Linked DNA regions of Homo sapiens. The protein of the gene in region 1 purifies or fractionates together with the protein of each later gene. This does not show direct contact. Each region holds a gene or a part of one and is shown in the gene's direction. Other genes may lie near its edges. The genes, in order: LRRC8B, SLC44A1, NPEPPS, SLC25A17, LMBR1, ABCB9 and ADCK2.

Region 1 (3,500 bases):
TATATCAAATGTTATTGCCGGTGATCATTTAAGCACTTGAAATATGTTTAATGCTTGTCATTAAATCTCTCAAGAATGGTGAAATGAGTTACTTAGCATAAAGAAAAGGGGCATATTAATCAGAGATACTGATGCATTGTTTCCTAGAGAGAGAACTCAACAAAAGGCGAATTTAAATTTCAGTTAGATATATGTTAGTCCCAAGAAACATCTTAATGGGAAGTAGCACTAAACATTTTGAAGGGATATAAGGTGATTTTTAAATCAATTTTCAATGAGAGTAGTGTAGAGAACCGCTATTTGGAATTGTTCGGCTATAATCCCTGCCTGGGGTCAGAGACAGATCTTTGAAGTAGCGTCCTCTTCTCAGTATATAATGACACTAAATACCATCTGATCATCATTTGTTTATTTTTTCACTTGTTATTTTAGAAATGCTTTCAAAGTAAAATAAGGACTACTGGGAAGTAAAGATGCCTAACTTGAATGTTGATGTTACAGTCTTAGAGACTTTGGAGTAAGATTGTCAAGTGAATTCATGTGTTTTGAAAAAGCTTTTATGACTTCTTAATGAGGTTTAAAAGCTGAAATAATGGGATTAGAACCGTAAAATCCATTACTCTTAACATTTCTTTGGATTGATTTAGTGTGTTTGTATATTAGAAATAGATATTTTATTTGGATTGAATCATCATTGTTTACTAAAATATGGTCTGGAAACAATTTCCTGGACAGACAGTATTAAATGGCATAATGACAAAAGATAGCTATGCTTAAACTCTCTAGTTAAGCACTTCAAATAGGAAAATTATCATCATTTTATACATAGGAATGCTGAGATGTTTTATATATACTTAAATCCAGATGCTATATATTTAAATATTAAGTTTTAGTTCAGTAGAAAATATTTAGTAGGAAAATGTTTAGCTGAGAAAGTAGATTATATGTAACGGAAGACATTACAGAAAACTACATTTGCATCCTTATTCAAACCCAGTTATAATGCAGTTATAACCCAGTTATAATGCAGATATTGGATGAGTTGGGAAAGAGCGCTAATTAGCTTTTTCTTCAGCTTTTGAGAGACCTAAGACTGTGGCGTAGTTAATTGGATTGACTGAGGCCATGTGGTCTGGTGTGCATGAGGTTGGGATTTGAGTATGAGGACCTAAGTTCCAGTTGCAACTTTATTTCTTAGAGGTTTTGTCACCTTGGGCAAGGTTAATTCTTTGGGACTGCCTTAATTTCTATGCATATAAACATAAAGAGTAATACTATTTATTTCAATGGCTTGTTTTAAGTATAAAACAAATTAATGTAAATGAGACATGCTTTGAAGGTAGAAAAACAGATGTTAAATTATTAATAAAGTAGAAAGTATATTTCTAATATTTAAGGAGAACTGTATAAGAAGAATCATGGCTGAGTAACATTTTTGAATTATGCAATAAATTCTTTTCTGGCATGTTACAAATGCAGCCGCTATGGAAGAATATGTAAAATGTTTCACACATCAGATGTCTTTATCATGCTCAGTGCACATAAATGCAGTCATGTGATATATGTTGTAAGACTTTTATAAAGGCTTGTGAATTGTGAATGAGAAATCTTACTCCAGTTGTGCCCTGTAGTTATGAATTAGTGTACAGCTAGGTTCTTATACATACTAACTGTGCTTTCTAACCTGCAAAACAATTTGATGCTGGATGGTGACTAATTGTAAAATAGGCTTTGCACATGACTTGGTAAACCCAAAGTAAGTTTTGGACATGCCCAAATTTTTGATATTTGAAATGACAAGCTTAAAAGATTATTGCTAAAAGTATCTTAAATACAATTTGGGGTCAGTACTCTTAGGAAGATTTGAAGTACTTTTTAAAAAGGATTGTATAATACAAAATCTCCCTAGAAACTTTTTTTTTGAGGTTTCATAGGCACTAAAAGATATAATTTTTACTTTCAATTAAAAACAAATTCTAGCATTTTACAATTTTCTCACAGTTCAAATTATCAATATATATGTAATTTAACTATCACAAATTATTGAACTATAAATGTTACAAATGGCTTTTATTAAACTCTAAATTAAACAAATCTAATATAAAGCCTAAGTATGTTTAATAATAACATAATTTCAAGTAATTTCAGCCATATTTCTGAGCTGTATCTGAAAAAGTATATTAACTTATCACTTTTTCTAATGAGATTGGTAGGCTAAATTTTAGGAGCACTGAGACTTATTTGGATAGATGTTTGGTTTTAAATATGGGTACAGAAATCACTTGGTGTGACAAGCTGTCTGAAAAATGCAAATAAGAACGACTGTGTTTGAGGAATGAGTGAGAGAAATTAACATATGTCGACTACTTAGAAAAGCTGTGTTCATCTAAGTGTTGTAGACACAGAATTTTAAAATATGTTGTGTTTAAATTGCTGTGGGAACTAACCTGTAATTGAAAGGAAGTTCAGGGAGTGAGTATGGTTTAATGAATGTGAGTGGGGCCCTGTAGATACACCTTTGCCAGAATGTGCCCCAGTGTGAAAAGTAAACTGACCTATGAAAATCTAAGCCAGGCACAGTGGCTCACACCTGTAATCCCAGCATTTGAGAGGCCAAGGTGGAAGGATTGCTTGAGGCCCAGAGTGTGAAAATCTATTTGCCATGTCATGTCTTATGACTGAGAGGGCTTCTGGAGACAGTATCTCCAGTTTGTTTGTTTGAATGACTGTAGCTATTTCAAGATATCTATGTTTTCTCATAGAATGAAGACAAACACAGAGATGGTGTGTCTAAGAAACTTCAAAAGGTGTAGACCTCCTGACTGAAGCATATTGGATTTATTTAATTTTTTTCACTGTAGTAAGTATAAATATTTAAAACACTTTTTTTGGTCAATGTTGACTTGTATTTTTATTGAATAAATATTCACTCTGTCAAATACCCTTATCATTGTTAGAGCTATTGTTGTTTTCATTCTTCTACAATTTCAGTTGCATATCTTAAATGAATTTAATTCTCAGGACCTTTGAGAGGACAAATGAAACATGAATTTAGAGCTGAAAGAACCCTTTGAAATTATCTGCTTCACTCTTTTTATCCATTACAAGAAATTCCTTTGCAACTCTCCTGATGGATGGTCATTTTATTTATCAAGATTCTGCTCAGGACATAGAGCTGAACTGTTTCACAGAGCAGCTAGTTCGATGACTTTCCACCACAGATTGAATCAAAATGTGATTTTCTAAAGCTTCCATCTACCTGGTTCTACCTTGGGAACAAATCCACTATTCTTTCACCTGTGAGGTTGTTGCGCAAAAATGTAAAGATAAATTCTCGGGCTCACCTAGTCATCTATTATTTCAGCTGAATATCATCGATTGCCCGTGTTCCTCTGTAGGAAACGGTTTAGAAACAACAGCTCCTGGTTGGTTTTTTGCCCATTTTATCTTTAACCTGTAACTGAGCATTGGGTTTCAGTATTGTGATCTCACGAGGCAGG
Region 2 (3,500 bases), on another chromosome or scaffold:
TTTTTTAACTTCAGCTTTTCTCCTATAATTCATTTCTGTATGTAGGAAACATATTTTCTTCCATTTTCTGAATATATTAAACATTTTTCCAGACAATTTTCTTGTGCCTGCAAGACTTCAAAATGGAAACATTCCCTTGCTCTAAAATGTTTTTCACCAATTTCTGGTAGTTTTGATTTGTTTCCTCCTCTTCAACAGATGGAAAATTTGTACTTGGTATTTGCCAACAAATAGGTAATGGAATTTGCCTTTGATCTCATTAACTCTTGAGTGCAGATGTTGATGTACATCGACTTTGCTTCAGTTTTTTATATCCCAGACATTTATCATATCAGCCACACACACACATGTCTCTACTCTGAATCATCCATTTTTTCACTGTGACCTACAAGGCCTTACAGTGTGGTCTGGTCCGCAGCTACCTCTCTGCCCACATCTCTACCACTTTCCGCATTGCTCATTGCAGTAGCCACAATGGTCTTCTTTCTCTCATACTAGGCATGGTTCTACCTCAGTCTCTTTGAACTTTGCCTGGGACACTCTTTCCTTAGATAGTGTCATAGATTGCTCTCTGTCTTTGATTCCATTGCTCAGATATCATCTTACTAATACCAGTGAGGCCTTGCTTACCCATCTTATATAAAATTGCAAAGCTTTCCCTACCCAGACACTCTATATCCTTCTTACCAGGAGATCATTTTTTCTTTAGACTTAATATACTGTATTTTTCCTTGTTTTCTTATTTTTTTGTTTCCCTATTATTATATAAGTTCCATGAACAGCAAGAGTAAGAACTTGGCTTTGTTTACTGTTCTATCTCCAGCTAGAACAATAGGTGCTGTAGCATTCAAAATGCTGAATGGGTTGAAAGTAGGTATATAAGTCAGCTCTCATATGTGGAGGTAGGTTTGTCTCCCTCTTCAGTCTGGTTCTTTGAATCTCTCAACCGGTGTTGGAGATTTAAAAATGCTTATCCCTAGCACCCACCACTATCAGAGATTTCCTCTTTGTTCCTCCCTTTGGTGGGAACTGTTCTTTTGATTTGCATTTATTCATTGTACAAATACTTAATCAACTGCATTACTGTGTCAGTGCAAGTCACAGAGGTATCTGTGATGAGTACAACAGAGAAGATCCTTGCCCTCTTTAAGCTTCATTGATGTTTTCTGTGATGCTTATTTCCTTCCTCCAGCCTCCTCAGCTTAAATGCTGAGGCTCTTTCTTTGTGGTCAATTCCTGTCAGGGGTGTATGTTTCTACTGGCTCGCTCTTAGCTTCATAGTCAATAATAAATACATTTGAAGGAAGCTTATTTGATACACTGAAGGATTTATAAATGCTTAATGTGGAGGATGATAATAGAGCAATGGACACTTTCTTTATGCTGGCAAAAAGTTATAGCTATGTACTTCCCAGCCAAATGGATTGTCACTGCATTAGTCCCATGATGATCTGTAGGAAGGGTCAAGAAAATTGAGAATTTATGTTACACATTTTCTTATCCTAATTATTGCATTAACAGTTGGGTCTTTTGTCTCCAGGAGGCACAGGTGTACTATGGTGGCTGTATGCAAAGCAAAGAAGGTCTCCCAAAGAAACTGTTACTCCTGAGCAGCTTCAGATAGCTGAAGACAATCTTCGGGCCCTCCTCATTTATGCCATTTCAGCTACAGTGTTCACAGTGAGTTTAGGCTTTGGCGTGTCTTTCGGTTTTGTGTTTTTGTTTGCAGGAGATCATTAATGGAGCAGAAACTCAAATCTAGCTTTTGCATTCCTAACCCTGATCTCCAGTAGATAATATCTCTGTGCCATAGTGTATGAAACACTAAAAAGTCTCTTGAAGGCTTCCCTCATGGATGAGTGCTATTTGATGAAACATTTTTTCTACCCTGTCTGCTTTTTGAGAGAGGATTTTCACCTAGAATATTTACATTACCATTTGCTTACAAGAACATATTTCTTATTGTCATAAGATAATTACTTTTTAAAAATGGTTCCCTTTACTGTAGAAAAGTATGTTAAAAAATATATCATTCCATTTACTTGTTTGCTAATTATCTTCCCATTTGTCTTTCAAACTTTTCATTTAACTTTATGGCGTTATTTCAAAAATATAGGTGTGGTCAGGTACAGTGGCTTATGCCTATAATGCAAGCACTTTGGGAGACTGAAGTGGGAGGATCACTTGAGCCCACGAGTTCTAGACCAACCTGGGCAAGATAGTGAGACCCTGTCTTCACAAAAAATTAAAATCAGCTGAGCATGCTGGTGTGCACCTGTGGTCCCAGCTACTCGGGAGGCAGAGGTGGGAGGGTCACCTGAGCCATGATTGTGTCACTGCATTACAGCCTAGGCAACTGAGTGAGACCTTGTCTCCAAAATATATATGTGTGTTTGTGTGTGCGTGTGTGTGCGCGCGCGCGCGTGTGTGTGTGTGTGTGTGAGATTTGCTGCTTAGGTATTAAGCAATAAAATTACCAATTAACATGTGGTTAAATAATTTATATGTATACCTTTGGTTCATCATCGTCTTCTCTCTGAAAAAAGAAAAAAAATCAGTCTACTTCTAAGAGCAATCCCAAGCTTTTTATTGAGCATCAGAAACAAAAAATAAAGCCATCATAAAACCATTGGTGCCAAAAGATATTTGTTAGTTATTGTTATACAGATATTACAACAAAATATGAATGAAATCTCATTTTAGGTACAATTTGCTGTGCCAGCTGCTGAAGATGGGATGTGGGGGTGGGAGGAGGCAAAGGGTGAATCTGACACAGATCCCACTTTTAAGGAGCTGTTGGTCTAATAAGGAAGATACAAATAAAAACCTCGTTTTTGTGGTGTATCTGTTTAAATAAATAAAGAGTCTCATCCTGACTGACAGTATGTTTTGGTTCATAATGAGTGGCAAAGGGAAAAGGAAAAAAATTCTAGAATGTATTAATAAGTTGAGAAATCCTTTTATGTTTTGCTTTAAAGGTCACTTGGTAACCATAATATAAAATTGACAATAAATATTGCAAGAGAGATACTTACTGATAAAGTATTATTGAAATTCAAAGAATGCTACCTCCAGGTTTGGGGCTGAAGGGTTATGTTAAAAATTTCTACTATTTTCGGTTTCTGTTTTCACTACTTATAATAATAACTGAAACCATTCTCTCCATACAGGTGATCTTATTCCTGATAATGTTGGTTATGCGCAAACGTGTTGCTCTTACCATCGCCTTGTTCCACGTAGCTGGCAAGGTCTTCATTCACTTGCCACTGCTAGTCTTCCAACCCTTCTGGACTTTCTTTGCTCTTGTCTTGTTTTGGGTGTACTGGATCATGACACTTCTTTTTCTTGGCACTACCGGTAAGAAGATAAGCTTCTTTCTCTTAGTGACAAACGTGATTTGCATTCCAGTATTTTAGAACATCAGAGAGAGGTAATTCTTCAGACATTTGTTGATGAAGGTCCAATAGCCATCAGAACTTGTAGTGGTTATGGCTCCTCAA
Region 3 (3,500 bases), on another chromosome or scaffold:
GCTTGAACTCGGGAAGCGGAGGAGCGGAGGTTGCGGTGAGCTGAGATCACGCCATTGCACTCCAGCCGGGGTGACACAGCGAGACCCTGTCTTTAAAAAAAAAAAAAAAGTTGACTAATCTGAATGGAAATATTTCTAAAATACATTATCTTTTTATGCTTTGCAATTCCTCATAGTGTAGGTTTGTTTCATTGTTTTTTTTAAATACTGAACTTTATTTTGAACATCTCTCATTGACCCCAAACTATGTACTATAATTTATCAGTTTCATATCTGTTTTTTTTTTTCTTTTTTTTTTCTTTTTGAGACGGAGTTTCGCTCTGTTGCCCAGGCTGGAGTGCAGTGGCACAATCTCGGCTCACTGCAACCTCCGCCTCCCAGGTTCAGGCAGTTCTCCTGCTTCAGCCTCCCTAGTAGCTGGGATTACAGGCATGCACCACCACGCCTGGCTAATTTTGTATTTTTAGTAGAGACAGGGTTTCACCATGTTGGCCAGGCTGGTCTTGAACTCCTGACCTCAGGTGATCTGCCTGCCTCCGCCTGCCAAAGTGCTGGGATTACAAGTGTGAGCCACCGCGCCTAGCCATATCTGTTCTTTTTTTTTTTTTTTTTTTTTTTGAGACAGAGTCTCACTCTGTTGCCTAGGCCAGGCTGGAGTGTGCAGTGGTGCGATCTCGGCTCACTGCAACCTCCACTTCCCTAGTTCAAGGGATTCTTCTGCCTCAGCCTCCCTAGTAGCTAGGATTACAGGTGCATGCCACCACACCTGGCTAATTTTTGTATTTTTCTAGAGACCAGGTTTCGCCATGTTAGCTAGGCTGGTCTCAAACACCCGACCTCAGGTGATCCGCCTGCCTCTGCCTCCTAAAGTGCTGGGATTACAGGCATGAACCACCGCGCCTAGTCCATATCTGTTTTCTTTTTTTTTTTTTTTTTTTTGGAGACAGAGTCTTGCTCTGTCGCCAAGGCCGGAGTGCAGTGGCGTGATCTCAGCTCACTGCAACCTCCGCCTCCCGGGTTTAAGCGATTCTCCTGCCTCATCCTCCCAAGTAGCTGGGACTACAGGCACCTGCCATCATGCCAGGCTAATTTTTGAATTTTTAGTAGAGAAGGGGTTTCACCATATTGGCCAGGCTGGTCTCGAACTCCTGACCTTGTGATCCACCCGCCTCGGCCTCCCAAAGTGCTGGGATTACAGGCCTGAGCCACCGCACCCGGCCAGCCTGTATCTGTTCTTTAAAGTTGTTTTGTTTTCCTTACTCTCATGTTCTTCTTGCTGCTTATTGTGCCTTGTTGCTGCCTGTTGTGCAATTTCTTCCCTCTTGTATTTTACTGAACTTCATCTGAAGAAGCCTTAGTAGCCAGATAAACAAGCTTGTTTGGGCTAAAAAATCAATTGCTGTGTGAGAGTTTGTTGGATTCTCTTCTGAGTAAAGGGTATGCGTTTTATTGTACGGACTTTGTATCACCTATTTTGGCTTTTCATCTAGGCCTTTTTTTTTTTTTTTTCTTTTTTCTTTTTAGCCTCCTGGTTCTAGATACAACTGATACTCTGATACAACCTGGGTAAATGTGGTCTTGAGTAGTAAATTATCTGTGAAGCTTCTCCGAACTTTGCCACATAAATGAGCCTGCTCTTATTGTGAAGTAAATCTTACTCTAATCTGTATGTGAGTCAGTGGGAAATATCTGAGCCTTCGGATGGCTTTTGTTAACTGAGATTAGTTCTCTAGATTTTAGTGATTTCGTTTTGAACACCATACAAGTATGTGGTCCTTGGTTTATTTGGTCACTTGTAATCTCTTTAAAATTTTATTTTAAATTAGGAAATATTTTAGAAATACAAGAAAGTCACACACTATGAGATTAAACAGATGTTAACGTTTTGCCCCATTTTCATCAGACTGTGCATGCTTTTTTTGGGGGGGGAATAAAATGTCACAGATATCACTAAAGCCCATTTCCATCTCGTCCCACCCTGCCTCTAGAAGTAACTTCTTTCTTCAGGTAGGTGCGTATTATTCCTTTTTATTCCTATGTATAGTTTAAAACTTTAATTGCATATTAGTAGCCACAAACATCACATACCAATATTCTGTGCCTTTTGCATTTTTACATTAATGGTAATTATTTTTGACCTTCTGCAAGTGGCTCTTTTCAATGTTTCTTGTTAGAAAACTTGGCTCAACTTGAGTTTACTAATTATCTGCTTCTTCTTGTCTTTAGCTATTATAGAACTGTTCCACCAAGGCAACAATTATTGCTATTTTAATGGTGAAATCAGTTTTATTAGGCAAATTGACTCAGGCTTCAGACTGGCATTTGGAATTGTCACACTGGAGATTTTCTTTTACTGAAATCTCAGGACATTGACAATCAGAAAAAAACCCTCTTGAGTCTTACTATCTTACATGTAAGATATGTTCCTGAGTGACTGTAGTAAAGACTCATTCAGGAAAATGTTATCTCCGATTTCTGCCTCCCTATCTCATAGGAAACTTCCATTGTAAAGTTGTTACCAGGCGTCAAGCTGCCTCTTTGGTACAGCCCTTACTTAGTATTTGGCTCAGTTGAAGTGCAGTCTATATAGGAGGCCAAGAAGACTTAATCCTGGGTTTGAAACAAAGCAAGGATACACTAACATTCTATCCTTTAATAACATCAAGTAGAAAAATTGAAAATGAGCTTGTTATCAGTGCACTTTTATATGCCAACCTTGTTTCACTTGTGTTTTAAACTGGGAAACTGAAGATTTTAATGCTGAAATTTCTTTGAATTATTACCTGTTTTTTTGATAGTGGAACACACAGCTAATATTTACTAACATGAAGGTGTCAAAGGTGGGAAATCATGTACTACACCATCAGGTCAGCACTACTGTTTGGAAGAGCAGCATCACAATGAGCAGTGTTATACTGCGTTGTAGTCAGCACATACACTTATGTCCAAACAGATATTTTAAATTACCTTCTTGGGGTAGTACACATGTGCTGATATCCAAAGTGCCATATAATACAATACATAGTTTTTAAACTTCATATCATTCTGATCAGAAGCTTTATAAACTGTTAGGTGAATGCTGTTAGATGATATGAGAGCACAATTTAACCTGTGTGTGTGTATGTGTATGTCTTAACATCTATTAAGTGATGACTACATATGAAGCACTAAGTGCTAAAACAGAGACTTTACATAGATTATCCCATTATTGGTCAACTTTTTAAATAAGTGCATCTCTAATATAAGACAAGATGCTGACCAATTTTTAAAATGTGAATGGATTTCTATTTTTAAGATAAGTACCTTTGTTCCTTTGGTTCCTCCCTCCCACCCTTCCAGAAATGGTAGTATCCTGGAAAAAAAAAATTAGTAACAATTCAAGAAACAGCTTAATTCATTAGTATAAATAGATGAGTTTCCCTTAAACACAGGAGGAGTTGGAAGGTACTTGTAATTGGATGTTGTGCATGGTGCCTTTCCAAAATGCACAAATACTTTCT
Region 4 (3,500 bases), on another chromosome or scaffold:
CACTCCAGCCTGGGTGACAGAGCGAGACTCCGTCTCAAAAAAAAAAAAAGGAAGAAATGTTTTCTGTCGTCTTTTCCTTTGGAAATTAGGAATTAAATTAGACTGCTTTATGGTTCATGAGTAACAGATGAAGGGCAAGGGATCTGCAGTGGGAATTTAGCACATGGTCACACAGGGGCATCATTTAGTTCTGGGGCAACCTAGGGAGCTCAAAGGTGAGGTAAATGGCATTTCAGTGAAACTTGCTGATGTTAACAATTATAATCCTCAAAGGATTTAGTTTAAACATACACGGGCCGGGTATGGTGGCTCACGCCTGTAATCCCAGCACTTTGGGAGGCTGAGGCATGAGGATCCCTTGAGCCCACAAGTTTGAGACCAGCCTGGGTAACATAGTGAGACTCCGTCTCTAAAAATATTAAAAAATAGGCGGGGCACGGTGGCTCATGCCTATAATCCCAGCACTTTGGGAGGCCGAGGTGGGCAGATCACTTGAGGTCAGGAGTTCAAGACCAGCCTGGCCAAAATTGCGAAACCCCGCCTCTACTAAAATACAAAAATTAGCTGGGCATGGTGGTGTGCACCTGTAATCCCAGCTACTTGGGAGGCTGCAACAGGAGAATCGCTTGAACCCAGGAGGTGGAGGTTGCAGTGAGCTGAGATCACGCCACTGCACTCCAGCCTGGGCGACAGAGTGAGACTCTGTCTCAAAAAAAAAATTTTTTTTTTAATTAATAAAATAAACATGCACTGTTTGGTCTTGTAGTTGATGAGAAAAGAAAATCCAAAACTACACACATGGTGCTCCTGGAGATCATTAAAGAAGAAGGACTGTGAGTACTACCTCAGTTCACCTTCGTTAAAGCAACTTGTTAGGAGATTCCTGTGCTTCCAGTAGAGTTATGCTTACTTTCTATCTTTCTCACAGCACTCTAATGTTGTGAATTTGGAATTGCCTGATTTATAAGTACATAATTGTTTTCAGTTTCTTAAAGATCTGTAGTGAGGCATTTGATTCTTTTTATTTATTTTTGTACAATGCTTACCTTAAGCCATTTGATTCTTGATCATGGAGTCTTCCATGAAACTAAAATGCATTGTTTTATATACAGTAAACTGAAAAAAAAATAATAGTTGTTTAGTTCATTCCTGTCAGGTGCATTAAGACAGATTATGTACTTCTTGTTTTAGCTTTTTATTGGAAATAATTTTAAATTTACAAAAATTTGCAAAACTAAACTTAGTACAAAGAAGACAAGTATATGCTTTACCCAGATTCATCTGTTAACATCTTTTCCTGTTTGTTTTACTATTTTTGCTCATGCTGTCTCTCTCCCACCTCCCTTCTCTCCTTACACACACCACACACAAATTTCCTCTGAATTATTTGAGAGTAAGTTACATACATCAAAGCCTTTTAGCCCCATGACACTGACACTTTTAAACAATACAGTCCGCCTGTAATCCTAGCACTTTGGGAGGCCGAGGCAGGCGGATCACCTGAGGTCAGGAGTTCGAGACAGCCTGACCAACATGGAGAAACCCCGTCTTTACTAAAAATACAAAATTAGCCGGGCGTGGTAGCGCATGCCTACAATCCCAGCTACTAAGGAGGCTGAAGCAGGAGAATCACGTGAACCCAGGAGGTGGAGGTTGCGGTGAGCCGAGATCGCGCCATTGCACTCCAGCCTGGGCAACAAGAGCAAAACTCCGTTTCAAAAAAAAAAAGAAAATAGAAAGTTTCTCATTTTTAAGTTTGCCTCACATTTCCTCATGATTCCATTGAGGTTATACATTATTGGCCTGAATAATGCACAGGTGATATTGTGTCCTTCTCAAGATATCACATCTTGACTCACATATTGTCTGCCTGCCTTTGGTTGGCTAATTATGATTTCTTAAATTTGATTTAGCCACTGTGCAATTACTTTTTTCTTCCCTTGCAACTATAAGCAGTCTATGTGGAGATACTTCAAAACAATACAAATATCCTGTGCTTTATCAACATTTTTCCCCTAAATTTACCACGAAGTTGCAAAATGACGACTTTCCAACTCCAGCATTGCCTCTACAGGTACCAATGTTGGCATTCTGCTATAAGCAGGACCTCCCCTTCTCCTTCATTTATTTATCTACTTATTATTGGTATAGGCTCAGAAATGTCTATTTTTCAATGGTTTACAATTGATTACTGTACTTCATTATTTTGGTATTCAAATTGCCCCAGATTTGGCCTGTAGGAGCTCCTGTGAGCTCCTGTGCCCTTGTGAATTCCCCCATCTTTTTTTTTTTTGATACTTATTTCCTATAATTACTTCATTTTAACTGTTCTTGCCCTGTAATAAAACATGAATGGTACTCTATTAACTAACAGCCATGAGGAAGTTGTCTCTAATTTTATATACCAATGTTACTAAAGAAAATTAAGGGAGGGAATTAATAAATCAATCAGACTTTGTGTTGTTTCTTTGGTATCATTAGTGCTAGAATAGATTTCTTGATTTGGACATCCTTCAGAATGTGAGGTGTGTGTACAGTTTGGAGTCCCTTGTATTCGTGTAGGAGTGAAGCTTGAGACCATGTGAATGATGGTCAGCCTTTCCTAGGATTTCTCTGCCAATTTCTAATTTGTCCATGACCTTTACTTTGCTTATTGTGTTTTTCCCCTAGCCTGGCACCATATCGAGGGTGGTTTCCAGTGATTTCCAGTCTCTGCTGCTCCAATTTTGTCTATTTCTACACTTTTAATAGCCTCAAAGCACTCTGGGTCAAAGGTCAACATTCTACCACTGGAAAAGATCTGGTAGTTGGGTTTGTTGCAGGTAACAAGGTTTTCTGGGTATAAAATGTTTTTATATTTACCTTGTGGTTTTATATCCTCTAAGAGGTTATTTAGCCCAAAGTAATGCTTACAAAGAATATAGCCAGTTTTCCAACTTGGTTTTTTTTTTTTTAATTGTGTTAAAAAACGTGACATAAAATTTACCATGTTAATTTTAAGTGTAAGGTCAGTAGTGTTAAACATGTTCACAATGTTATGAAACAAATCTCCAGTACTTTTGCATATTGCAGACCTGATTCTATTCTCATTAAACTCCCCTTTTCCCTTTCCCTGAGCCCCTTAGTAACCACCATTCTACTTTCGGTTTCTAAGAATTTGACTACTTTAGATACTTGATATAAGTCGAATCATACACTACTTGTTTTTTTTGTGACTGGCTTACTTCACTTAGTATAATGTCTTCTACTTTCATCCATGCCATACAGCATGTGACATGACTTCCTTACTTTTTTATGACTGAATAATATTCCATTATATGTATATATCACATTCTGTTTATCCATTCATCTGTTAATAGGCACTTAAGTTGCTTCCATCTTTTGGCTGTTGTGAATAGTGCTATGAAAATGGATGTGTAGCTCTCTCTTTGAGAGCCTGCTTTCCATTCTTCTGGATATATACCCAGAAGTGGGATTGCTGGATCATTTGGAATTCTGTT
Region 5 (3,500 bases), on another chromosome or scaffold:
CACTTGTCTAGAAGAGAAAACAACAGGTTAGTCTTCCTCAAGCACTTAAAGCGGCTTTTTGTTTTGCTTTTCCTATGGGCCTTAAGACTTTTTGGAGACTGCCGAGAACTTAGGAAACTTGCATTCTGTTGGAGAGTTTTTTTCCTTGATTCTCACAGCTATCTTATGGTGTCCTCTGTTGTCGGCTTCTATAGCCTTCGATTTTTTGGAAACTTTACTCCCAAGAAAGATGACACAACTATGACAAAGGTAAGGTAGAATCTTAGGTGACTGTGGCCTCTCGTTTGCCTTCCCTGACAGACTGCTTTATTTAATAGTCATTCTGAATGGTTCATTTGCAGTGATAGGTATTTGTTTGTAAGTTGCGTAAACACAAACTGGAAGATTTTCAAAATGCTGAGTGAGTGGGAAAGGGATGTACCCTGTTTAATTTGGATGGCGTCCATTCACTGTAAATGCGGAGAACTGCAGAGCTTGTTAACTAGCTATAGAAGGCTCCTGAAAGGACTCTTTTTCCTCTAAAGAAAACGTATTGCTAATGAGTAACTTGGATTGTGCTAACTGTACTTCAGGGAGCTTGTTTGAAGTCTGAAGAACTTAGTTGCTACAAGTAGTAGGGACAAAGTATTTCAAATTTGAATAATTAAAGTAAGACGGAAGAGTTCTATTCAGAAACATTTTGTAGTCTGAGGCTAATTTGACTTTTTCCACAACATGTCATTGGGTTCAGAATAAAAAGGCTGTTGCCGTATATAGTGACTGAATCTTTATAAAATATTCCCGTAGGCTGACAAAGAAGAATAACTAATAAGAGCTGAAAGCTTGTTTTGTTTTTATTTTATATTTTTAGCCTACTTAAAGGGGAGAAGTTATTTTACACACACACACACACACACACACACACACACACACACACACAGCTATTTCTTTAAACTTAATAAGTAGTTGAGATATTTAGTATCTAGTTTAAGTGATCATAAATATTAATTGATATTTTCAACTCCTCTTATTTACTATGGAAGAATAAACATGGGATGCATTATTACAAAAGTTTAGAGGTTTTGGATTTCTGGTGCTTTTTAAATCTTACAATTAACATTAGAAATAGATGTGATAAAAGAGATCTTAAGCAATAATCTGGCCTTAAAAATGTAGTCAGAAGTATCCAATATGTTAATTATTTTTTGCTTGACAGGCAGAGCCTTTTGAAAGTAACAGCTGCAATCAGTAATGTAAAGTGCATTATCTAGGTGTCAAGTAATTTAAGTATTCTATAACTATATCTGTGCTAGGTACTGTAAACATCTTCTAGAACTTACAGATATAACTTTATTTATTTTAAAAGTGTGTTATTCTTTGAAAATTCTGTACTGAATAGTATCATTAAGAAATCGGCAAAGTACACTAGGTAACTAGAATGCACAATCATTTCTCAGAATGTTACTGGGTTTGATTGTCATCCTGCTGTTTAACTGCCCAATATTCTTTCTCGTTTCTCATAACAGATCATTGGAAATTGTGTGTCCATCTTGGTTTTGAGCTCTGCTCTGCCTGTGATGTCGAGAACACTGGGTAAGTTTCAGTGAGAAATTTTCACTTAAAGATCCATGTTTTTAAAAACTGTCTTTACTGAACTTATTTAACATTTACTCATAAAGATTACCTTTGAAATACAGTGTTTCTTCCTACATTATTTTACACTTTTACTTCTATACTTTATGTATAGGGGCATACCAAGACAAATACTTTTATCAAATAATGACTACTTATTTTTTAAACACTTAAAAGCATTCTTTCTCCAAACAACGGGCTGGTTTTTGTTGTATTTTGTTTTTACTGACACATCTATAAGTTAGGCTTTCGAGTCCTCTAGTGAGGAAACTGCATTAAACTAATTTTTCTATTTAAAAGCTTTTGAGCGTTTATAATTTAGTATGGTTTAAAAAATTGAAAATTTGTAAATTATTTTAAGCTGCTTTGTGTCCACAAAATAGAGGTGAACGCAGTGTAATCTCTGAGAACACACTCTGATTCAAAGGACACCCTTGAGAGTTCCTACTTGCCTGTCATTCATTTCTGTCATTTTCTTATTGTTTCAGTTTACGGAGAATTTGATAATCTTTTAAAAGAAAAACAGATTTTTGCTTTGTCATTGAAATAGTTGAGTAAGTCTTCCCTTAGTTGTCTTTTATAAAATGCTATTGTAGACCATATTCTGAGTTCTTCACTAAATATTATTTCAGACAAAAGTTTCCATTAAGCATTTCTATCTAATTCTCTAGACTTAGGTTTTGACTTAAGAGTGCACACGAATGATTGGAAAATTTTGATCATTAAATTTTAGCTACTTGCTCATAACAAAAATTGCTGGTAACTTTGAGTTGCTTTTGCATTAGCTCTCATATTGCCTCCATTATTTATTGAAGACTTACAGATACCAGGGATGCAGGCTGTGCAAAGAAAGTAGAAGCTTTGTAGTTATCTTCATAATTCTTACAAAGGATTTCATGTTTGTAATAGAAAACAAAAAGTATAAATGTAAAGGGACCACTGTTCCATAAGCTAATAAAAAACTGGTGTGTGTAATAGTCTTATTTCTTTTGTGTTTGCTTTATAGGACTTGTAATTGTTTTGACATCTGCTTATGTGAATCTTGAAAATGCCAAAAGTATGCTCTTTAGCAACCTGATTTGATGTTAAATGTTATCATTTATATTATGACAGTCTATTAAATAATTTCTGTTATATTTCAGCCAACCTATCATTTTAATACTTAGGAAACTCATTCACTGTACTATTATTTAAGATTGATTGCTAATCATTAATATATACCGATTTTATGGAAGAAAATTACATGCTGAGTATAGTTTTAACACAAAGAAAACAAACTAATGGTAAAATTTACTTTTTGAAGGCCAACAAATTAAATTCCAGAGTAGTTTGCCATAGAGATAAATAAAAAGAAAAAAAAGAAAGATGGAACAATTAAAATGCAGCTAACAAATGCCTGGACCCAGCTGTCCAAACAGGATTAATGGAGTGCATTAGGGTACAGTGAGTCATGTGGTGCTTTGCAAAATATCAACACGCACTGCATTACATGTTATGCCCAGTGGCATTGAATAGATGAAAAGAAATAAATACGTTAAACAGATTCATAGAGGCTTTTCACAGTATTAAAAAAGCAAATTTCTAGACTAAAAGAAAAAGCTTTATTTTAGCATTATGGGAAATGCAAACTAGAGAGTTACTTTGTAATTCCTCTATTAACCCTTTAGAATTGAGTCTTTGATTTTAAGAAGATAAAATATAGGGAATTGTCATGAATATTATCCTAGTGTATAACAGGATTTTGATTTACCAGCTGAAAAGCTTATAAGACTAGAATAGAGGATGTATTTAAGCAATCAGATTCCAAGCTGTGACATTTTTCAGTCTTTCTTGTCGCCTCTCTCAAGGAAACCCTGACCTTAGTGTGGTCTCCTTTGCTCCTGTGAAAT
Region 6 (3,486 bases), on another chromosome or scaffold:
GCCTCTCATGCTCCATGCTCCCTCCTCCCCAGATCTCCCTGGTGAGCCAGGAGCCCGTGCTGTTCGCCCGCTCCATCACGGATAACATCTCCTACGGCCTGCCCACTGTGCCTTTCGAGATGGTGGTGGAGGCCGCACAGAAGGCCAATGCCCACGGCTTCATCATGGAACTCCAGGACGGCTACAGCACAGGTGTGGAGCTGGGGGTGGCCCCTCTCCTGGGCCCACAGGGTCACCCTCAGGGACATAACCCTCTGAGTTAAGCACTGCCCCCTGCCACCTGCTCTTTTTTTTGTAGAGATGGGGTCCCGCTACGTTACCCTGGCCAGACTCGAACCTCCTGCGCTCAAGCAATCTTCCTGCAATCCCCAAAGTGCTGGGATTACAGGCATGAGCCACTGTGCTGTGACTCAGCAAAATATTTATTAAGTAAATTATTATAGAAGCCCATACACTGGAATATTATGCTGCTGGGAAAAAGAGGAAGTAGAAGAAGGGGGAGGAGGTGGAGGCGGAGGAGGAGGTGGAGGCAGAGGAGGAGGCAGCTCTCCATATAGCAGTATGGAAAGGTCACTGAGATAGGATGCTGAGTGAGAAGAGCCAGGTGCAGAGCATAAGGAGCTGGGTTTTTTTTTTCCTATTAAAGGACTGGGGAGATAAAAATAACATGTTCATATTTGCATAAAGAAACTAGACAAGGACATGTAAGCAACTAATGAAAGACGTTTTGGTGGGAGCAGGAGGGAACTGAAGAAAGAACTTAAACTTTTCATTATTTAGAGTTTTATATATTTTTAGTTTTTTTAGTTTTTTTTTTTTTTTTGAGGCAGGGGCTTGCTCTGTCACCCAGGTGGGAGTGCAGTGGCGTGATCACGGCTCACTGCAGCCTCAACCTCTTGGGCTCAAGCCATCCTTCCACCCCACTTTTTATTTTTGTTGTAGAGACGGGGTCTTGCTATGTTTCCCAGGCTGGTCTCAAATTCCTGGGCTCATGCAATCCTCCTGCCTCCCAAAGTGCTGGGATTACAGGCATGAGCCATTGTATCCAGCCTGTATTTTTAGATTTTTGAACCACACGAATAGCCCCTTTTCAATAATTAAATATATACAATGTATAGGGGGGTTGGGGAGATGTTGATCAAAAGATAAAAATTTTCCCTTAGGAATAAGGTCAAGAGACCTGTTGACTATAGTTTTTTGTTTGTTTGTGTTTTAATTGAGACAGTCTCACTCTGTCGCCCAGGCTGGAGTAGAGTGGAGTAATCTTGCCTCACTGCAACCTCCGTCTCCCAGGTTCAAGCGATTCTCCTGCCTCAGCCTCCTGAGTAGCTGGGATTACAAGTGCCCACCACCACACCTTGCTAATTTTTTTTTGTATTGTTAGTAGAGACGGGGTTTCACTATTTTGGCCAGGCTGGTCTTGAACTCCTGACCTCAGGTGATCTGCCTGCCTTGGCTTCCCAAAGTGGTGGGATTTCAGGTGTGAGCCACTGTGTCTGGCCAGCTATATTTAGTAACAGTGTACTGTGTACTTGAAAATAGCTAAGAGAGTAGATTTTAAGTGTTCTCTCTTTAAAAAAGTGATAAATATGTGAGATAATGTATATGTTAACTGGCTTGATTTAGCTATTCCACAGTGTATATGTATTTCAGAGCATCACGTTGTACACCATTAAATACAAACTATTTTTACTTGTCAATTTAAAAGAATTTTTAAATTAAAATATACTAAATACACTAATTTTTAAAAAAATTACCTCGATATGAACTTAAGTAGTTCTAGTAATTAATTGATATAATAAATATATATTATTTTAGAATAGTGTTTTGAAATTCAGTAGAGGTGGTGGTTGTGCAACATTGTGAATGCACTAAATGCCACTGGATTATTCACTTTTTTTTTTTTTCTTGAGATGGAGTCTCGCTCTGTCGCCCAGGCTGGAGTGCAGTGGCGCGATCTCGGCTCACGGCAACCTCTTCCTCCCGGGTTCAAGTGATTCTCTTGCCTCGGCCTCCCGAGTAGCTGGGATTACAGGCATGTGCCACCATACCCGGCTAATTTTGTGTATTTTTAGTAGAGACAGGGTTTCACCATATTAGCCAGGATGGTCTCAATCTCCTGACCTTGTGACCCGCCCACCTTGGTTGGCCTCCCAAAGTGCTGGGAGCCACCGTGCTCAGCCCGGATTATTCACTTTACAATGGTTATGTTTATGTTATGTCAGTTTCATCTCAATGAAAGAAAAATGAAATAATAAAGAACTGGTGGCGTGGCCAGGTGCAGTGGCTCACGTCTGTAATCCCAGCACTTTGGAGGCCAAGGCAAGAGGATCGCTTGAGGCCAGGGGTTTGAGAACAGCTTGGGCAATGTAGTGAGACCCCACCTCTACAGAAAAATATTTTAAGTTAGCCAGGTGTGGTGGCATGCACCTGTAGTCTCAGTTACTCAGAAGGCTGAGGCTGGAGGATTGCTTGAACCCAGAAGTTTGAGGCTACAGTAAGCAGTGATTGTACTACTGCACTCTAGCGTGGGTGAGAGAGTGAGACCCTGTCTCTAAAATAATAATAATTGATTGACTCAATTTCCTATTGATGGACATTTGAGTCTATTTGTTTTATTTTTTGCAATAACAGCGCTGTGGGTCACAGGTGACCTGTGTCTATATTGTTGTGCATGGGAGGAAGTCGGTCCATGGGGAAAATTGGTCCAGGTGGGCTTGCGGGGCCACAGGCCACACATCTGTGGTGAATACACACAACCTTTGCACTGCACAGACTCATAGACCCAGGGTTATTGCTGCAGCTCTTCAAGCCATGGGGCTCGCTCCAACTCCCCTTCTCCAGGAGGACGGGTGAGGGCCTGTCTCCCTGCAGCCTCACCTGCACTGTGTGCTATCAGATGTTTGGGTTTCTGCCAAATGAATGAGTGAAAATTGGTAACTTGCTATCAATTTGCATGTAGGCTTAATCTGCATGCCCCTTATGAGTTGGGTGGGGGGAACATCATTTCATGAGCTTTCAAGTTGTGGGTTCCAGCCCGCCCTTTCCACAGCTGCAGGGCAGGGCCTCTCACTCTTCCCCGGTGCTGCCCGGCCTCACCCATTGCTAAATTGTCTCTGTGCCTCCACCATACAGAGACAGGGGAGAAGGGCGCCCAGCTGTCAGGTGGCCAGAAGCAGCGGGTGGCCATGGCCCGGGCTCTGGTGCGGAACCCCCCAGTCCTCATCCTGGATGAAGCCACCAGCGCTTTGGATGCCGAGAGCGAGTATCTGGTGAGTCACAGGGTGGTGGGCAATGCGGGGGCAGGAGCGGCTCCAGGTGGCCAGAGCCCCCATCGCCCAGCAGATGGATGCTGAGAAGAGACGGGCCCCAGGAGCTCTCCCAGACTATCAGCCTCCTGGGCTGGTGAATTCCTGGTGTTGAGAGTGGGGAGCCAGGAGCCACTCTGGACCCAGCCTCCAGGCTCCAGGCAGAGCTGTATGGTGT
Region 7 (4,228 bases), on another chromosome or scaffold:
TATTCAGCCAGTAAGGGCAGGATATTTGTGTCCGCTTTCCCAGGGTCCAGCACATGACCTAGCTTGATCAGTACATATTATTGAGCCTCGACAAATATGAGATTGGGCTCAAGAAATATTTATTGGGCTCAGTGAGTATTATTGAATGAATGAATATGGCCTTTCCGGAGCCTTTCCCCAAGGTCCAACACAATTGCCGAATTAATGCAGCCGAGGACACAGCATCCAGTTCCTACTCCTGCAGCCCAGTTACCCCCATCCAACACCACCCCCCTACCCAACCCCCGCTGAAAAGCGGACCTGTGTTCAGAACCTGCCTTCATACTTTTCAGCCATGCTCTTTGGAATAATGAAAGATACGAAGAAGTCAGTGGGAAGATAGACATGGGGAGGGGGACATAGAGGGTGCCTTTGCGTTTTGCTACCCAGGACCCAGGACTCAAGGGCAGGGTGGTCTTGGCCTGGGGTCGCCGTCCTCTTTAAGGGGCGGGTCAAGGGACCCTGGCTGCCCGGGCCTCTGCCACCGACCCTCTGCTCCCTCCGACCCTCACCGCCCAGCACCCAGCCCTCTGCCCCCACCGGCCACCCTGTAACAGCCCAGCGGGTTCACCTTGCCTGCTGCCTAGACAGAGCCGATTTATCAAGACAGGGGCATTGCAATAGAGAAGGAGTAATTCACACAGATCAGGCTGCGCGGGACACTGGGCAGAGTTTTTAAGGACAACTTGGTGGGTGGGGGAAGGCCAGTGAGTCGAGAGTGCTGATTGGTTGGGTCGGAGGTGAAATCTTAGGGAACTGAAGCTGTCCTCTTGTGCTGAGTTAGTTCCGGAGTGGGGGCCTAAGATCAGATGACCTGGTTTATCGATCTGGTAGGTGTCAGTTGATCCATCAAGTGCAGGGTCTGCAAAATATCTTGAGCACTGATCTTATTAGCAGTTTAGGGAGGGTCAGAATACTGTAGCCTTGCTGCCTGACTCCTAAATCATACTTTCTAATCTTTTGGTTAATTTGTTAGTCCTACAAAGACAGTCTATTCCCCAGGCAAGAAGGAGGTTTGTTTTCAGAAAGGGCTGTTATCATCTTTGTTTTAAACTATAAAGTATAAACTAAGTTCCTCCCAAAGTTAGTTCAGCCAACGCCCAGGAATGAACAAGGACAGCTTGGAGGTTAGAAGCAAGATGGAGTTGGTTAGGTCAGATCTCTTTCATTATCTGTTATAATTTTGCAATGGCGGTTTCAACCTAGTGGCCGAACCCGTCCCATCCATCTCCCGCGCCCCTCCGCTCCACCACAGCCCTCGGTGCCTCGGTTCCCTGCACCTGCACTCCCGCCCGCCCCCGACGCTCCGCCCCCGACGCTCCGCCCGCCCTCCACGCTCCGCCCCGCCCTCCCGGCCCCCGCCTGCGCCCGCGCCCTGGGCTGGTGCCCGCCACCCCAGCGATCTCATACTGGCCCCTGGGCGCACGGTGACCCTGCGGCTGCCCGGCCCCTGCCTCCGCCCGCGCGGCCCCCTCGCTCAGGTCGCGGGCGCCCGGGGCCTGGCTTCGCGTGGGTCCTGGCTCCTCCCGTTCCGCAGTTGGTGCCGTCTGACAGCCCCTTCCGCGCGGCGCGGCGCGGCGCGGCGGGTGTCGGGCGGGGCGCGGGCCTCCGGCCTGAGGCCCGGCGAGGTGCTGGAGGGAGCGGGGCGCGGATCCGGCCCAGATGGGCAGCTCCGTCCGCGGGGTCAGGGCCGGGCTTCGGCTTCACCGCAGCCTCGCCTGAGCGGGCGCCTCTGAAGTGGAGGGCGGGCCGCCTGGGCCGCGGGCCTCGGGAGGATGGTGGCGCCCTGGCGCGTCTCCGTCAGGGTTTGCCTGTCGCACCTGAGGTGCTTCGAGCTCAGACAGGGACTCAGCCTCCTGAGGCCCTCCGAGTGCCCTCGCGATGCCAGGCTCTGCTGGCTTCTGCTGGGCACTTTGCCCAAGGTCGTCTCCCTGTGCGGGGACGTGGGTGAGGGGGCCCCTGACGTTCTGAGTCGGCGAAGGGTCCGCTGCAGCGGGGCGGCTGGCGCGGGGCCCGCGGAGAGCCTCCCCCGAGCGGGACCTCTGGGCGGCGTCTTCCTGCATCTCCGCCTCTGGCTTCGCGCCGGCGCTCTGTTGGTGAAATTCTTCCCCCTCCTACTCCTCTACCCCCTCACCTACCTGGCTCCCAGCGTCTCCACCCTCTGGCTCCACCTGCTTCTGAAAGCCACCGAGACCTCAGGCCCAACCTACATCAAACTGGGCCAGTGGGCCAGCACCCGGCGCGATCTGTTTTCGGAGGCTTTCTGTGCCCAATTTTCCAAGCTGCATGTCCGAGTGACGCCCCACCCGTGGACTCACACTGAGCGCTTCCTTCGGCAGGCTTTTGGGGATGACTGGGGGAGCATCCTCTCTTTTGAGAACCGGGAACCTGTGGGCTCAGGCTGCGTGGCCCAGGTGTACAAAGCATACGCCAACACTGCCTTCCTGGAGACTGACAGCGTCCAGAGACTTGGCAGGGCCTCCTGTCTGCCGCCCTTCTCACATACTGGGGCAGTCGGTGGGCTGAGAGAGCTCTTTGGATACCTTGGAAATGGCCGGAAACCTCCAGAAAATCTCGCAGACCAGTCGTTTCTAGAAAGGCTGCTCCTCCCTAAAGCTGACCTGGTTGGATCAAATGCAGGGGTGTCTCGGGCTCAGGTCCCTGGCCACCAACCTGAGGCCACCAACCTCATCTCCGTGGCAGTGAAAGTAAGTGTTGTGAGAGCTCACAGCTCACCTACCCACTGAGCTATCCCAGATCAGAAACAACCGCCATGCAAATCGCCCCCACGTTTATTTCTATTTGCCTGACCAATATCTGAGTGCTTATTTCATGCAAGCTGTTTCATTTATTGGCTTGAAGTGGCGGTGTGAATAGTCTGATAGAGGAAAATGAACTGAGTCTGGAGTGAACTAACTGCTTGGGTGTCGGGACCACATCCTCTTTTCTTTGATAAGAAGCCACCTGGCTCTTGCTTGGATGGTGGGACCCAGCCCTGGCTGGGTAAAATGTGTCCAGCAGGTTTCTCCTGTCTCACGGTTCCTCTTTCTGACAGGTGTTGCACCCTGGCCTGCTCGCTCAGGTGCATATGGACCTGCTGCTGATGAAGATTGGCAGCCGAGTCCTGGGAGTTTTGCCAGGCATCAAGTGGCTTAGCTTGCCTGAGATTGTGGAGGAATTTGAGAAGCTGATGGTCCAACAGGTGAGTTCTCCTCCCCTCAGCTGTAAATAGCACCTAACATAGTTCTTGCCATTAGCTGCTACTTAGTAAATGTTGAATGAATAATTTTCTGGTATGTCATAACTCATGTGATGTGTTAGAGCTGGTAACACTAGCTGATAAAGAACATCCAAATCTCAGTGGCTTAATGCAACAAATTAATTTTTTGCTTATATCAAAGTTCTGGCCGGGCGTGGTGGCTCATGTGTGTAATCCTAGGACTTTGGGAGGCTCAGGCAGGTGGATCACTTGAGGCCAGGAGTTCGAGATCAGCCTGGCCAACATGGTGTAACCCTGTCTCTACTGAAAATACAAAAATTAGCTGGGCGTGGTGCTGCATGCCTGTAATCCCAGCTACTCAGGAAGCTGAGGCATGAGAATTGCTTGAACCCAAGATGGAGGTTGCAGTGAGATGACATCATGCCACTGCACTCCAGCCTGGCGACAGAGTGAGACTCCATCTCAAAAGAAAAATAAAAACAAAAAACAAAGTTCTATGCAGGTGAACTGAGGCAGAGAAAGGGAGCTCTTTATTTTATTATTTTAAAAACAGAGACAGGGTCTTGCCATTGTTGTCCAGGCTGATTTTGAACTCCTGGGCTCAAGCCATTCTCCCTCCTCGGCCTTCCAAAGTGCTGAGATGACAGAACTAAGCCACCGTACGGTCAAGAGAGGGAGCTCTACTCCCTAGTTTCAGGGGACTCAATTTCTTCCCAAGTTTGGCACTGCCTCCTTCAACATGTGTCATCTGGGGTCAGTGTGGATTGGAGGCAGAGGCCATGCAGGGTCATGTAATAAATTTTGTGGCCAGGCCTGGAAGTGGCAAACATCACTTCTTTCCTGTTCACTGATCAGAGCTGTAACTGCCTGGGCCCAGTGTAACTGTGAGCTTGGGAAATACAGTCTTCCTTTGTGACAAGGAAATGATTCTGGTGGAGAACATCTAGCATTATTTCTGCCATAATCAAT

The links.
Region 2: the proteins of LRRC8B (region 1) and SLC44A1 purify together in Homo sapiens (affinity purification with mass spectrometry; 2 studies listed by BioGRID and IntAct, with this or other methods). This does not show direct contact.
Region 3: the proteins of LRRC8B (region 1) and NPEPPS purify together in Homo sapiens (affinity purification with mass spectrometry; one large-scale study listed by BioGRID and IntAct). This does not show direct contact.
Region 4: the proteins of LRRC8B (region 1) and SLC25A17 purify together in Homo sapiens (affinity purification with mass spectrometry; 2 studies listed by BioGRID and IntAct, with this or other methods). This does not show direct contact.
Region 5: the proteins of LRRC8B (region 1) and LMBR1 purify together in Homo sapiens (affinity purification with mass spectrometry; 2 studies listed by BioGRID and IntAct, with this or other methods). This does not show direct contact.
Region 6: the proteins of LRRC8B (region 1) and ABCB9 purify together in Homo sapiens (affinity purification with mass spectrometry; 2 studies listed by BioGRID and IntAct, with this or other methods). This does not show direct contact.
Region 7: the proteins of LRRC8B (region 1) and ADCK2 purify together in Homo sapiens (affinity purification with mass spectrometry; 2 studies listed by BioGRID and IntAct, with this or other methods). This does not show direct contact.

What each region holds. Positions count from the first base shown.
Region 1 is NC_000001.11:89,576,829-89,580,328, forward strand, and holds part of LRRC8B (volume-regulated anion channel subunit LRRC8B), read left to right. Parts: intron 1-2,762; 5' UTR 2,763-2,763; coding exon of another isoform or gene 2,764-2,826; 5' UTR 2,827-2,860; intron 2,861-3,500. Other genes in the region: uncharacterized LOC128092251, read left to right, coding at 2,764-2,826. UniProt on the Homo sapiens protein: Non-essential component of the volume-regulated anion channel (VRAC, also named VSOAC channel), an anion channel required to maintain a constant cell volume in response to extracellular or intracellular osmotic changes.
Region 2 is NC_000009.12:105,359,651-105,363,150, forward strand, and holds part of SLC44A1 (choline transporter-like protein 1), read left to right. Parts: intron 1-1,540; coding exon 1,541-1,680; intron 1,681-3,170; coding exon 3,171-3,357; intron 3,358-3,500.
Region 3 is NC_000017.11:47,537,608-47,541,107, forward strand, and holds part of NPEPPS (puromycin-sensitive aminopeptidase), read left to right. Parts: intron 1-3,500. UniProt on the Homo sapiens protein: Aminopeptidase with broad substrate specificity for several peptides. Involved in proteolytic events essential for cell growth and viability. May act as regulator of neuropeptide activity.
Region 4 is NC_000022.11:40,791,847-40,795,346, reverse strand, and holds part of SLC25A17 (peroxisomal membrane protein PMP34), read left to right. Parts: intron 1-766; coding exon 767-833; intron 834-2,670; coding exon 2,671-2,822; intron 2,823-3,500.
Region 5 is NC_000007.14:156,722,184-156,725,683, reverse strand, and holds part of LMBR1 (limb region 1 protein homolog), read left to right. Parts: intron 1-158; coding exon 159-249; intron 250-1,505; coding exon 1,506-1,572; intron 1,573-3,500. UniProt on the Homo sapiens protein: Putative membrane receptor.
Region 6 is NC_000012.12:122,931,978-122,935,463, reverse strand, and holds part of ABCB9 (ABC-type oligopeptide transporter ABCB9), read left to right. Parts: intron 1-32; coding exon 33-192; intron 193-3,135; coding exon 3,136-3,272; intron 3,273-3,486. UniProt on the Homo sapiens protein: ATP-dependent low-affinity peptide transporter which translocates a broad spectrum of peptides from the cytosol to the lysosomal lumen for degradation.
Region 7 is NC_000007.14:140,671,517-140,675,744, forward strand, and holds the start of ADCK2 (uncharacterized aarF domain-containing protein kinase 2), read left to right. Parts: upstream 1-1,428; 5' UTR 1,429-1,814; coding exon 1,815-2,747; intron 2,748-3,094; coding exon 3,095-3,241; intron 3,242-4,228. UniProt on the Homo sapiens protein: The function of this protein is not yet clear. It is not known if it has protein kinase activity and what type of substrate it would phosphorylate (Ser, Thr or Tyr).